Linked DNA regions of Homo sapiens. The protein of the gene in region 2 interacts with the protein of the main gene of each other region in a pairwise test. Each region holds a gene or a part of one and is shown on either strand. Other genes may lie near its edges.

The links.
Region 1: the proteins of KCNF1 (region 2) and CLPTM1L interact in binary tests that used the Homo sapiens proteins (3 or more experiments, as listed by UniProt).
Region 3: the proteins of KCNF1 (region 2) and KCNH1 interact in a two-hybrid assay, tested with the Homo sapiens proteins (one study listed by BioGRID).

The regions. Positions count from the first base shown.
Region 1 is NC_000005.10:1,338,491-1,342,238, forward strand, and holds part of CLPTM1L (lipid scramblase CLPTM1L), read right to left. Parts: intron 3,371-3,748; coding exon 3,181-3,370; intron 690-3,180; exon of another isoform or gene 656-689; intron 516-655; coding exon 370-515; intron 1-369. UniProt on the Homo sapiens protein: Scramblase that mediates the translocation of glucosaminylphosphatidylinositol (alpha-D-GlcN-(1-6)-(1,2-diacyl-sn-glycero-3-phospho)-1D-myo-inositol, GlcN-PI) across the endoplasmic reticulum (ER) membrane, from the cytosolic leaflet to the luminal leaflet of the ER membrane, where it participates in the biosynthesis of glycosylphosphatidylinositol (GPI).
Region 2 is NC_000002.12:10,909,740-10,913,487, reverse strand, and holds the start of KCNF1 (voltage-gated potassium channel regulatory subunit KCNF1), read right to left. Parts: upstream 1,555-3,748; 5' UTR 1,062-1,554; coding exon 1-1,061. UniProt on the Homo sapiens protein: Regulatory alpha-subunit of the voltage-gated potassium (Kv) channel which, when coassembled with KCNB1 or KCNB2, can modulate their expression and their gating kinetics by acting on deactivation upon repolarization and inactivation during maintained depolarization.
Region 3 is NC_000001.11:211,127,485-211,131,232, forward strand, and holds part of KCNH1 (voltage-gated delayed rectifier potassium channel KCNH1), read right to left. Parts: intron 1-3,748. UniProt on the Homo sapiens protein: Pore-forming (alpha) subunit of a voltage-gated delayed rectifier potassium channel that mediates outward-rectifying potassium currents which, on depolarization, reaches a steady-state level and do not inactivate.

The DNA.
Region 1 (3,748 bases), on a different chromosome or scaffold from region 2:
GATGGCAAGTGATACTAAATAATCTAAAGATTAACTTTTAAGTAAATCTAAATAAGCCAAGTTAAAAAATCACAAGGGGAGCAAAGCAACCCGTTCCCATCAGCGCCTTCCGTTTTCTCTCCATGGAAGCCTTCGCCAGCCAGGAGCAAAGGGCAGGATGCTCCAGCTTGAATTCCTTTCTCCCCCCTTCCAGCCCTGTGGTAGCAGCACAACCTCAATGAGGAAGTGGGAAAGAGCTGGGAGGCCCGGGCAGCAAGTGCCTCCCCACAGAGGGGACTCCACGGTGCAGGAGTGACCTGCTGGCGAGTTCTGGCCAGCCAGGGTCCCAGCACCCTCCCCCCGGCGCTCCAGCTCTGGGGCCCCACTTACATCTTCATGTACCGATGCACATCGGCAGGCAGGGAGGACCCGTCAAAGACAAAGTTGTCCGCCATCACGTTCAGCGCCAGCCGCGGTCGCCAGTGGGACACTGGCTCATCCAGGGCACTCGTCGGCTTCTTCTCCGCCTCGATCTGCTGTTAAGTGAGGAAAACAGAGGCCAATGCTGGGACAGAAAACCATGCCCAGGACAGCAGGGTCAGCCCCCTAACCTGCGAACAGAACGGCCACACAGACAGGCAAACTGTGCCCGGGACAGCAGGGTCAGCCCCCTAACCTGTGAAGAGATGGCCACACAGACGGGCAAACTGTGCCCGGGACAGCAGGGTCAGCACCCTAACCTGTGAAGAGAACGGCCACACAGACGGGCAAACTGTGCCCGGGACAGCAGGGTCAGTGCCCTAACCTGTGAACAGATGGCCACACAGACTGGCAAACTGTGCCCGGGACAGCAGGGTCAGCGCCCTAACCTGTGAACAGATGGCCACGCACATGGAAAAACCGCACCCGGACAGCAGGGTCAGCACCCTAACCTGTGAAGAGAACGGCCACACAGACGGGCAAACTGTGCCCGGGACAGCAGGGTCAGCGCCCTAACCTGTGAACAGATGGCCACACAGACGGGCAAACTGTGCCCGGGACAGCAGGGTCAGCGCCCTAACCTGTGAACAGATGGCCACGCACATGGAAAAACCGCGCCCGGACAGCAGGGTCGGCACCCTAACCTGTGAAGAGAACGGCCACACAGACGGGCAAACTGTGCTCGGGACAGCAGGGTCAGCGCCCTAACCTGTGAACAGATGGCCACACAGATGGGCAAACTGTGCCCGGGACAGCAGAGTCAGCGCCCTAACCTGTGAACAGATGGCCACGCACATGGAAAAACCGCGCCCGGACAGCAGGGTCAGCACCCTAACCTGTGAAGAGAACGGCCACACAGACGGGCAAACTGTGCTCGGGACAGCAGGGTCAGCGCCCTAACCTGTGAACAGATGGCCACACAGACGGGCAAACTGTGCCCGGGACAGCAGGGTCAGCGCCCTAACCTGTGAACAGATGGCCACGCACATGGAAAAACCGCGCCCGGACAGCAGGGTCGGCACCCTAACCTGTGAACAGATGGCCACGCACAGGCACAACCGGGGGAGAGCCCAGCAGAGAGGGCACAGCGGCCCCACAGCTGCCAATTCCGCCAGACTCTCGCCAAACAGCCCCCCATCCTTATCTCCACGGAAGCCAGGGGGTGCTGCTTTGCAACATGTGGTCACGGACTTCACCAATTCCTTTTTTGAGGTCCTCAAACTAAGTGGGCCCACTTCTCAGAAGTTGAGAGGGTGAGAGCCCCCTGACCTTGGCAGAAGACTGTGCAAGTCCAGGGCTCACACAGCCCTGTGGCTGTAAGGAGACTGAGAGGGAGTCAGCTTCTAAAACCAAGCATGTGGGGCTGCCTAAAGGAGACATACTGAGGATTACACACGGCTCTTACATGAAGTTAAACAGGACATGGACTGACAGGGAAATCTTAGCTCGGCTCAGATCTGATACATCCTAGGAAGCACTATCGCCTCACCCATTTCCTACCTAAAGATGCAGTTTAGCGATAATTTACATTACAAACGGTTTTCCACACCTCCTCACATTTGCTACCTGCAAGGGAGGCTTCCTGCGCTACATGCTACATGCCCATCACCCCACCCACTTTTCAGGACACTGGAGAGGAGGGATGGGGGCCCCAGATGAGGGGACACGGAGAGGGGCAGGTGAGGGATGTTCCTAAGGAGACAGATGCAAACTGGGGAGAGGCAGGAGCAGGTGTTGGTAGGGCTTTCAAAACCCCATCAACTCCGAGAGACCTCTCTTTCTCTCTGTCTGGAACAATTTCACAGCCTCTTCCTGGAAAGCTGCCATCTTTCTTGTTTTGTAAATTTTTCTGAGGCAGAGTCTCCCTCTGTCGCCCAGGCTGGAATGCAGTGGCATCATCTCACCTCACGGGTTCAAACGATTCTCCTCCCTCAGCCTCCTGAGTAGCTGGGATTACAGGCGCGTGCCACCACATCCAGCTAATTTTTGTATTTTTAGTAGAGACGGGGTTTCACCATGTTGGCCAGGCTAGTCTCGAACTCCTGACTGCAGGTGATCCACCTGCCTCAGCCTCCCAAAGTGCTGGGATTACAGGCATGAGCCACTGCGCCCGGCCTTGTTTTGTAAATTATCTCACCTTCCACTCAACACAAAGGTGGGTGTCAGAATTCCCTTGCTTTATCCTTGGCCTGTATTCATGATCACTTAAGTGACTTCCAGTTTTTATTTGCGCATACACCTTTCTACAGATGTACAAACTACAACTTGTACCTCTACCTTTTCCATGATCTCCAATTACATTCTTAGAATAAACATCTAGGAATAGCCCAGTCCTACACAGAATGCAGAATGAGCCCAGCTCTCATCCCCAGAGCTCCTGGTGAGAAGCTGCAGGCCAGCTCTGCAGGACCAGCGCTCCATCCCACCAGGTGCAGTAGGTGCCCCCAGAGACTGAGAGGGCCCATTCCCCGAGGGACTCTGCATCGAGAATGCCAGCGATCACTTCAACTGTCCCTAATTTTAGATAAAACTTGTCTGCAAACTCATGGATATGATTCAGCTGAAAGTCAGAAATGCACGCCAGTAACATTCCAATGGCTTTTGGCTTTACTCCCAACAAAGTCACTGGAGCCCTAGACATCGCCCACCTGTGTGGAGAAAGACATGTCCGTTCTGACGGAGAGGCACAGCCTGTTATCAGTAACCCATGAAGACCCTCACCTGTGTATCAGACTCCCCGGTGAGCAGGTTGATTTCTTCTGGCTTGGGGACCATGTAGGTGGTCAGAGGACTGACCAGGTGCACCTGCTTCCCGTCGTGCCACGGCAGGACCCCAGCGTGATGGAGGAAGATGTAGGCATACAGCGTCCCATTGTTTCTCGTTTTCTTTGGTACAGAAACATTAACTGTCCTGAAACAGAACAATCATTTCCACTACATACATATTATATTCTGGGTCTCTAGAACCTATTCAAATACCTTTATAAAGCTGCTTCAATAAACTAATTTTAGCTCAGAAGTACTAAAAATGAAACCCACCTGCCCAGGGCTTTACGAGTCGTGTGTGTGTGTGTGTGTGTGTGTGTGTGTGCACGCGCACGCGTGCGCGTCCTGAGAACTCGGCACAGGTGTGGGCGCCTACAGCCGAAAGCAAAACGGCCCGCACTTCCTGCCTCCATCTCAGGAGGCTGAGAGGTCAATAACCCACCTGAGGCCACAAGGCTGAAGCAGCCAGATGGAAAGCAGCTTCTGGGCCTGGCCAGGGTACCAGCTGACCACACACACTGAA
Region 2 (3,748 bases):
AACAGGGTCTCTGGATGGCTCTGCTCCATGGTGTAGCCCAGGGCAGAGAAGACGAAGATACCCACTGCCAGGTACATGAGCAGCAGCCCCAGTTCCTTGAAGCTGCGCTTGAGGGCATAGGTGAGGGTCTGCAGGCCCGAGGAGTGGCGGGCCAGCTTGAAGATGCGCGCGATGCGCATGATCCGCAGCGCCTGCACGGCCTGCTGCACGTTGGTCAGCTCCATCATGCGGGCACCCAGGTGCGTGAGCGTGAGGCTCACGTAGAAGGGGAGGATGGCCAGCACGTCCACAATGTTCATGAAGGACAGCGCGAAGTGCAGCTTGTTGGGTGACGAGAAGAGGCGCAGCAGGTACTCCAGGGTGAACCAGCCAATGCACGCCGTCTCCACGTTCTCCAGCGTCGGGTGCTCCACGCGGTTGCCCTCGGCGTCCAGCACCTGCAGCTCGGGGATGGTGCCCATGCACATGACCACGGACGAGACGAGGATGAGCAGGAAGGAGAGCACGGCCACCACCCGCGCCGGGCACGACGACTCGGGCTTCTCCAGGAACTTCCAGACGCACTTCTGGCAGCGGCGCCAGCGGCCCTCGGCTGCGTCCACGCCCAGGTCGTCCAGGATGAGCTGCACGCGGCGCGCGATCTCCTCCAGCTCCTCGCGCTTCTCGCTCAGGTGGCTCTTGCAACAGTCGTCCAGGAACTTGAGGTCCACCTTCCAGAAGTCCATCTCGTTCTTGAAGCAGATGGGGCAGATGCCCTTCTTCATGTGGACCTCCCCGAAATAGTACACCTCGATGACACACTTGAAGGCGTCCGGGTCCCTGTCAAAGTAGAACTCGCGCTTGCCGGGGTCGTAGTCGTCGCACAGGGAGAAGATGGTGTCGTAGCCCCCAGCCAAGCAGTTGATGAGCTCCGCCAGCCGGGTCTCAGGGTACTGACTGAGGAGGTCCCCGTACAGCACCTGCCGCACGCCCCCCACGTTGACGACTATCTCTATGTCGTCGCTGGCAGCGGAGCTCTGGCTGCCCGGCTCCGGGAGGCTGCGCTCCCCGGACCCGTCCATCCTCCCCGCGCGCGCCCTCGCAGCCTCCGCCCCGCGCCCCCTGCAGCCGCCGCCGCCGCTGCCGCTGGGGGTCCGGCGGGTGCCACCCGTGCGCTGATCTCGGGGAGAGCCTGGCCGGCGCCCGCCTGCGGGGAAGGGCGGTCACAGCGGGCAGCAGCCTGCGGGGGCGCGCCGCGGGGGAGGCATGCACCCGGCGGCGGGGCTCGGGGCTGGCATCCGGGCGCCCGGGCGAGCCCGCGGGGGCTTTGGCGGCCGCCGGCCTCGCCCGGGGCACTCACCCCGGCTGGCTGGCGGCGCGCTCCGCCGCTTCAGCTCGGCCTCCTGCGGGAGCGGGGTCTCCTCGTGGGCGGCTGGCACCGTCCTCCGCCCCGGGGCGCGCAGGCAGCGGCGGCAGGTCCCGGAGCTGGCGGACCCACGCCGTCCGCGAGGTGCTCGAGGTGTGCAGAGAGCGAACTTGGGCTGGCTTTGCCCGAGCCTTTTCTAAACACAATAGGAATTCCAGCCTGACGTCAGGAGCTTTTCAAACTGTACCCTCTTCTGGTGAAATTCTGCAAGGCACGCGCGGCAGCTGCAGGGGACGGATTAACCCTTGGGCAGACGGGCACAGCTGCCGCGCCCGCCGCCACCACCGCGCACCGCCGGCCCCTCCTCGGGCGCAGCGGGTCACCGAGGGGTTGCGACCTGGCTTGAAGCGGCAGGCATTCTCTCTCACTGCTGTTTGGAGAGGATTAGTGGGGAGAGAATGCTGCCGCCTGTTGCTGGGCAGGAAAATGTGCTCCAGGAAGCCCCTTAGAAGGTGACTCCTATGTCTGGGTCCCTCCTCCGGCCTTAGACCCGCGCCGGCTTTTCCTGGTGGGAGGAAAATCCTGCCTGATCCTTGAAGCGTTTCCTGCCCCATCCCCCCGACCCAGCAATGCCCTGCTGTGTTGGTGGCACTGTCTCACCTTCCCCGCAACGCTGTACAAGGAGGACATCTAGTCCAGCCTCCTGTAGAAGGGAAGGGACTTGCCCAAGGTCACGCGGCGGAATGAGAGCAGAGCTCAGCTTGACCGCCTCCTGATCCCGAGCTTTCCGGCTGTCCCAGCTGACCGACGCCTGCTGTTCAGCAGATTTCAATTCTGCCTTGAAGTCCCTGCCGTCTGGCACCTCCTATCTCTCTGCAGTCCCACACCAAGGCCACTAGCTTCCAGACCCCTAGGGTCCAGTGGCTCCTGCTTCCCCGTTCCTCACTCCTTGACCAAGGCCTGTCTCTTCCTGACCAGTGTCCCACACCCTCCTCTCTTCCAGCCTTTGCAGCCACAGCTGTCCTTCTGTCCTCACTCACCTGAACCACTACAGCAGCTTCCTAACAGTGTCTCTCTCCTCCGGTTCACCACTATCATCAATACTGCAAATTACTGATATCATCTATGGCCTCGAGATCGTGTTAAAAATATTCTGGAGGGAAGAATGAATAGGCAGAGCAGAGGATTTTTAGGGCAGTGAAACGTACCATAATGGCGGATATGTGTCGTTATGCAATGGTCAAAATCCATAGAATGTTCACCACCAGGAGCGAATGTTAATGCAAACTCGGTGCTGGGCGATGATGACGTGTCCATGTGGGGTGGTCCACCATGACAAGTGTCCCACCCTGTGTGAGATGTTGATGCGCAGGGGAGAGCTGTGGAGACAGGGGGCATGTGGGAATTCTCTGTACTTTCTGTTGAATTGTGCTCTAAAATATAAAGTCTATTTAAAAATGTATTCTGTAGGCTGGGTTTTTTAAAACTTAAGGACATGTCCGTTAATGGATTATGAAATCAATTTACTGGGTCACTGACAGTATTCTTTTTTCTTTAATGAGTTAGCATAAAACAGAATATATTAGAATACATCACATGAAGTATTATTTAGTGAAACTTCGTTTTACAAATTTTACTTCATTTCCATTTAGCATCAGACAATGACATGCTACTACAGAGTAGGAAATCGAGGCTCAGAAAGGTTGAGTAATAATAAGAGTTGCCACTTATTCTCCATGGGCATCGGAGTGCAGTCTCTGAGTGCTTTGCATTTTTGTCATTTAATTTCCCAGCAACCCCTAAGGAAACAAGATGTCAGGTAACCTGCCGAGATCACTCTGTGGAGCTGGGATTTAACCATTGTCCTGCTGGGTTCTGAGGCCTATTCTTCTCCCCAGTACAGTGCTACACACCACCTCCTACACACACCCCAGCTTCCTCTTCCAATCCTTATGCATGCTACTCCCCTTATCAGCTGTCCGAGTACCTGCAGGGTTAAGTTCAAATTGCATCCTAGTCTGAGCTTAATGGGCTTCTAAATACCCATTCATTCACTCAGTTATTCAAATATTTATCGAGCTCTTATGGCACATGTGTGCAAATGCACACACACACACATACACACACCACCCTAGGTGTGGGGACAGGGTTCATATTCTAGTAGATAATATGTTTTTTGTAAATAATAATTAACAGTTTGGGGTAATGACCTTAACAAGAGGGGTATATGTATTATACAAGAGTGGTGCTTCCTGAATTTCTCCACAGGGGGCGCTGAGGGGCGGCCATCTGGTTGGAAGAGGGAGGGGCTGCATTTGCCTAGAAGCCCAGCCTTCACTCACTCAGGTTTGCATCGGGGTGTCTGATGAATCTCCCTCAGCAGATAGAGCCCCAATAGCTACT
Region 3 (3,748 bases), on a different chromosome or scaffold from region 2:
ACTGTACAAGTCTTTCGCATCATTTACAATCGTGTGTGAGGGAGCTCCTCAGAGAGAATACTTCAACCCACAGTGGATACTGATGCCTCCCAAAGGGCAAGAGCAAGTTTTGTTTTCATTTAATTTTGGTCATGTGCTCCTATTAACATAACTCTCAATGACCCTGTTTTATTAGGTACTAGATTGTTTGGGCAACATCACTACTAAAGACAAAAGAAGAAAATACCAAATGCTGGCAAGGATGTGCTGCAGTGATAGAAACGCTCACACACGGCTGGTGGGAGTGTATATTAATATAAAACCTTTGGAAAACTGTTTGACAGCATCTACCACAGTTAAACATGTGCATCCTAGGTATACACCCAAGAGAAATGTGTGCCCACATGCTCCAAAAGACATACTAAAAATGTTTGTAGCAGCATTAATAGCACAAAACTGGAAACAATCCATCAGTGGCAGATCGGACACAATGTGTGGTACAGTCATACTATAAAGCACGATGCAGCAGTGAAAATGCATCAACAGGCCAGGCGTGGTGGCTCGTGCCTGTAATCTCAACACTTTGGAAGGCCAAGGCGGGCGGATCACAAGGTCAGGAGTTCAAGACCAGCCTGACCAACATGGTGAAACCCTGTATCTACTAAAAATACAAAAATTAGCCAGGCATGGTGGTGCACACCTGTAATCCCAGCTACTCAGGAGGCTGAGGCAGGAGAATTGCTTGAACCCGGGAGGCGGAGGTTGCAGTGAGCCGAGATCGCGCCACTGCACTCCAGCGACAAAGTGAGATTCTGTCTCAAAAAAAAAAAAAAAAAAGAAAGAGGTAAAGAAAATGAAGCAGTACATGCAACAACATAGAGGAATTGCCACCCGACAAAAGAATATATGCTATATGATCTCATGCATATAAAGCTCCAAAACAGATAAAAATAAACAGTAGTATTTATTAACTATAGTGGGTTTTTTTAGGAATGCAAAACAAACTGGTAAAATTATGAGGAAAAGCAAGAAAGTGATCACCATAAAATCAGGAGATGTCACCCTTTAGGAGGAGAGTGAGGGACTTAGGATCAGGAAGGCTTTGGGGGCTTCTAGAGGTCTGGCAAGACTCTATTTCTTGACACAGGTGGCGATGGCATACAGTATCACTTTATAGAAATATGTTAAGCTGTACAAAATTGTTTTGTGTGCTTTTCTATTTGTCGTACTGAACAATTAAAAAGGTTAAAAGGGGAGAAGAATACAATGCAAAACTTATCAAAAGTTTTTTAAAGGTTTGCAGCTGGAAAAAACAATGGGCTAAGTCAGTTTTGTTCCACGGAGCAGACTGCAAATAAGTGGTAGCTATAAGAAGACAGATTTTGGTAAGACCAAATGACAGCAACAAAGGGAGGAGGAAGAGGCAGAGAGAAGAGAAGAAGAGAAAAACAAGGAAAGGCGGCAAAAGAAACACAATTATACTTGCTTACAAATAGAATATTCCTCACGAGAAAGTGAGGGTCCCATCACTGAAGCTAGTCAAACACAGGCTGGAGAACCATCAGGAGGGAGGTTCTGGAGAGGATTCAGTGGAACAGTGGAAAATGAATTGTATAGCATGTCCCCCCAGAACTAAGATTCTGTGATTCTATTTCTCTTTCTCAACAGTTACAGGTGTGGCCACTTAGAGAAACAGAAAAAATAAAAAACAAGAAAAGTATGGTCCAAATATCCTAAGTGTATAAAGCAGATACTCTAGTAGATTTTAAAATGTTTGTTTACAAGCCATTAACTAATCAAAAATAAAGGGAAGGGAAGAATTGAAGAGCTTCAAGGTAATGCTCAAGGAACCACTCCCAAATGAGGTCCAACCATATATGCAGAGCTGGCATCGGAAACAATGAAGCCAAGGATTCAGTTGACCCACAGTGTTCCTCAAACACATCTATTCTTTTAAGATAGATTACTAAAATAAATGGGTTGCATAAAAGTCATGGAATTTGGAAGCTTTATTTCCTTAACATTAAATGACAAGGCTTCAGCTTCTCAATCCCCCATCTAACATCAGCCAACAGATTTAACTTTTTGACACTTTCAGAGAAAGATAGCTGAGCCTTGGCTGAAGATTGTCTTAGAATATTTTACAAGAAAAAACAAGCTCTGCTGAGCTGGTAATAATCCAGATTATCATCCATTCCCCCTTGTAGAGGCACAATGGATTTTAACCAGTTTTCTGTTTTATAAATATTACCATGGCTCAAAACACCCATGAGGAGACACAACATTACTCGTGGTTCTCATCCTGTTTGCTAACTAATTATATCAACAACCTGAACCAACTTAACACTATACAAAAACACAGCTGATTTAGCAATCTGTAAATTATACATGTACATAAATCTGTACCAAAATGTGCTGTGTTTCACTCCTGCTAATGTGCATGGATTTTTACTGGCACCTACAATTGTTTGATATAGGTTCCCGAACACTAAAACATATGTTCTGCCCAGAATGGGACCATTTAGAGTAATATTTTTGTAGTTTCCTGGCACCAAGGTCTGCCAGCCTTTCTAAGACAGATCTCCTATTTGCTTCAGCAAACATTCTGACAACAAGTGCCTGCAGATTTAAGCAACTATCAAAAAATATTCTGTAACAACAGTTTCCAACCATGAATATAAAGAGAAACAGGCTGGTTTTGCCTATGTGGCAACAAAGCCAGTAGGATTTAAAATGATCACTGACATGACCATAAGCAAAATCAAATAAAATATGGAGTATTAATTATTTCTGCTGCCTACTTACGGCAATTTAAAGAACAGATAATTATCAAATCTTTCCTTAAATGGGATTCAAAATGTACCAAAGAAAGTTAAAAGTCGGTTTTAGTACCAGCAAGACCAGTAAACACCTTAGAAATGTTTTTTAAATACAGTGACAGGCCTAAACAGTCGCAGCCGGTCAACACTGTAAAATAGGGGCAAGAACCTTGGACCAAGATTCACTAGAATGTAATTTACTAATCACAAGGAGGGTTTCTTGTTTACCACTGTATCCTCAGTGTTCCATAAATACATTCAATAAATCTTTGTTGAATGAATAAACCAAAAACAACTGCTGGCTAGTCCCTGATCTGTCTCTAATTGCCTTTTCCTAATTCTGCCTCTTACGAATTGTAGGTAAATCACTTAACCTGAGGATTCTTAGGTGAGTTTTAGTTTAAGGATTTTAGTTCCTTAAACTCTAAAATGGAGAGACTGCACCTCCTCTACTAGCTTATGAGGATCAAAGGTGATACTCTGTGAAAAGTGACTTGGTACTTTATAATGGGGCACACAGATGTTAAGTGCCCATTATCCCCGCCTTTGCCTTCAGCTAAACCACTGACAAAGGTGAACAGACTGCATTTCCTTGAAATATAATTAGCCTTTCCTTTGCCCTATTATTCTGTTGAGATGTGGTAGTGTGGCTGTTAGCCAAGATGGATGTTGTTCTTGTTGTTATAACATTTTATTTAATCTCCACTGGGAAATTATGCTTCTTGAGAGAATATAATGGTAACATGAGGAAAGGGTTTTTGCATGGTGTACCATAAAGAATCTGACATTGGACTCAAATGGTTTGGGGCCTCATTAGTTCTGCCCTTAAATATTTGAGGAAAGCCTCTTGCATCAATTTCCTTATTTATACAATGATGGGGAAGGAGAGGCAGACTAGATAATATTTAAGGTCTGTCTCTTCCCACAGCTCTATGATATTCCGGGCATCA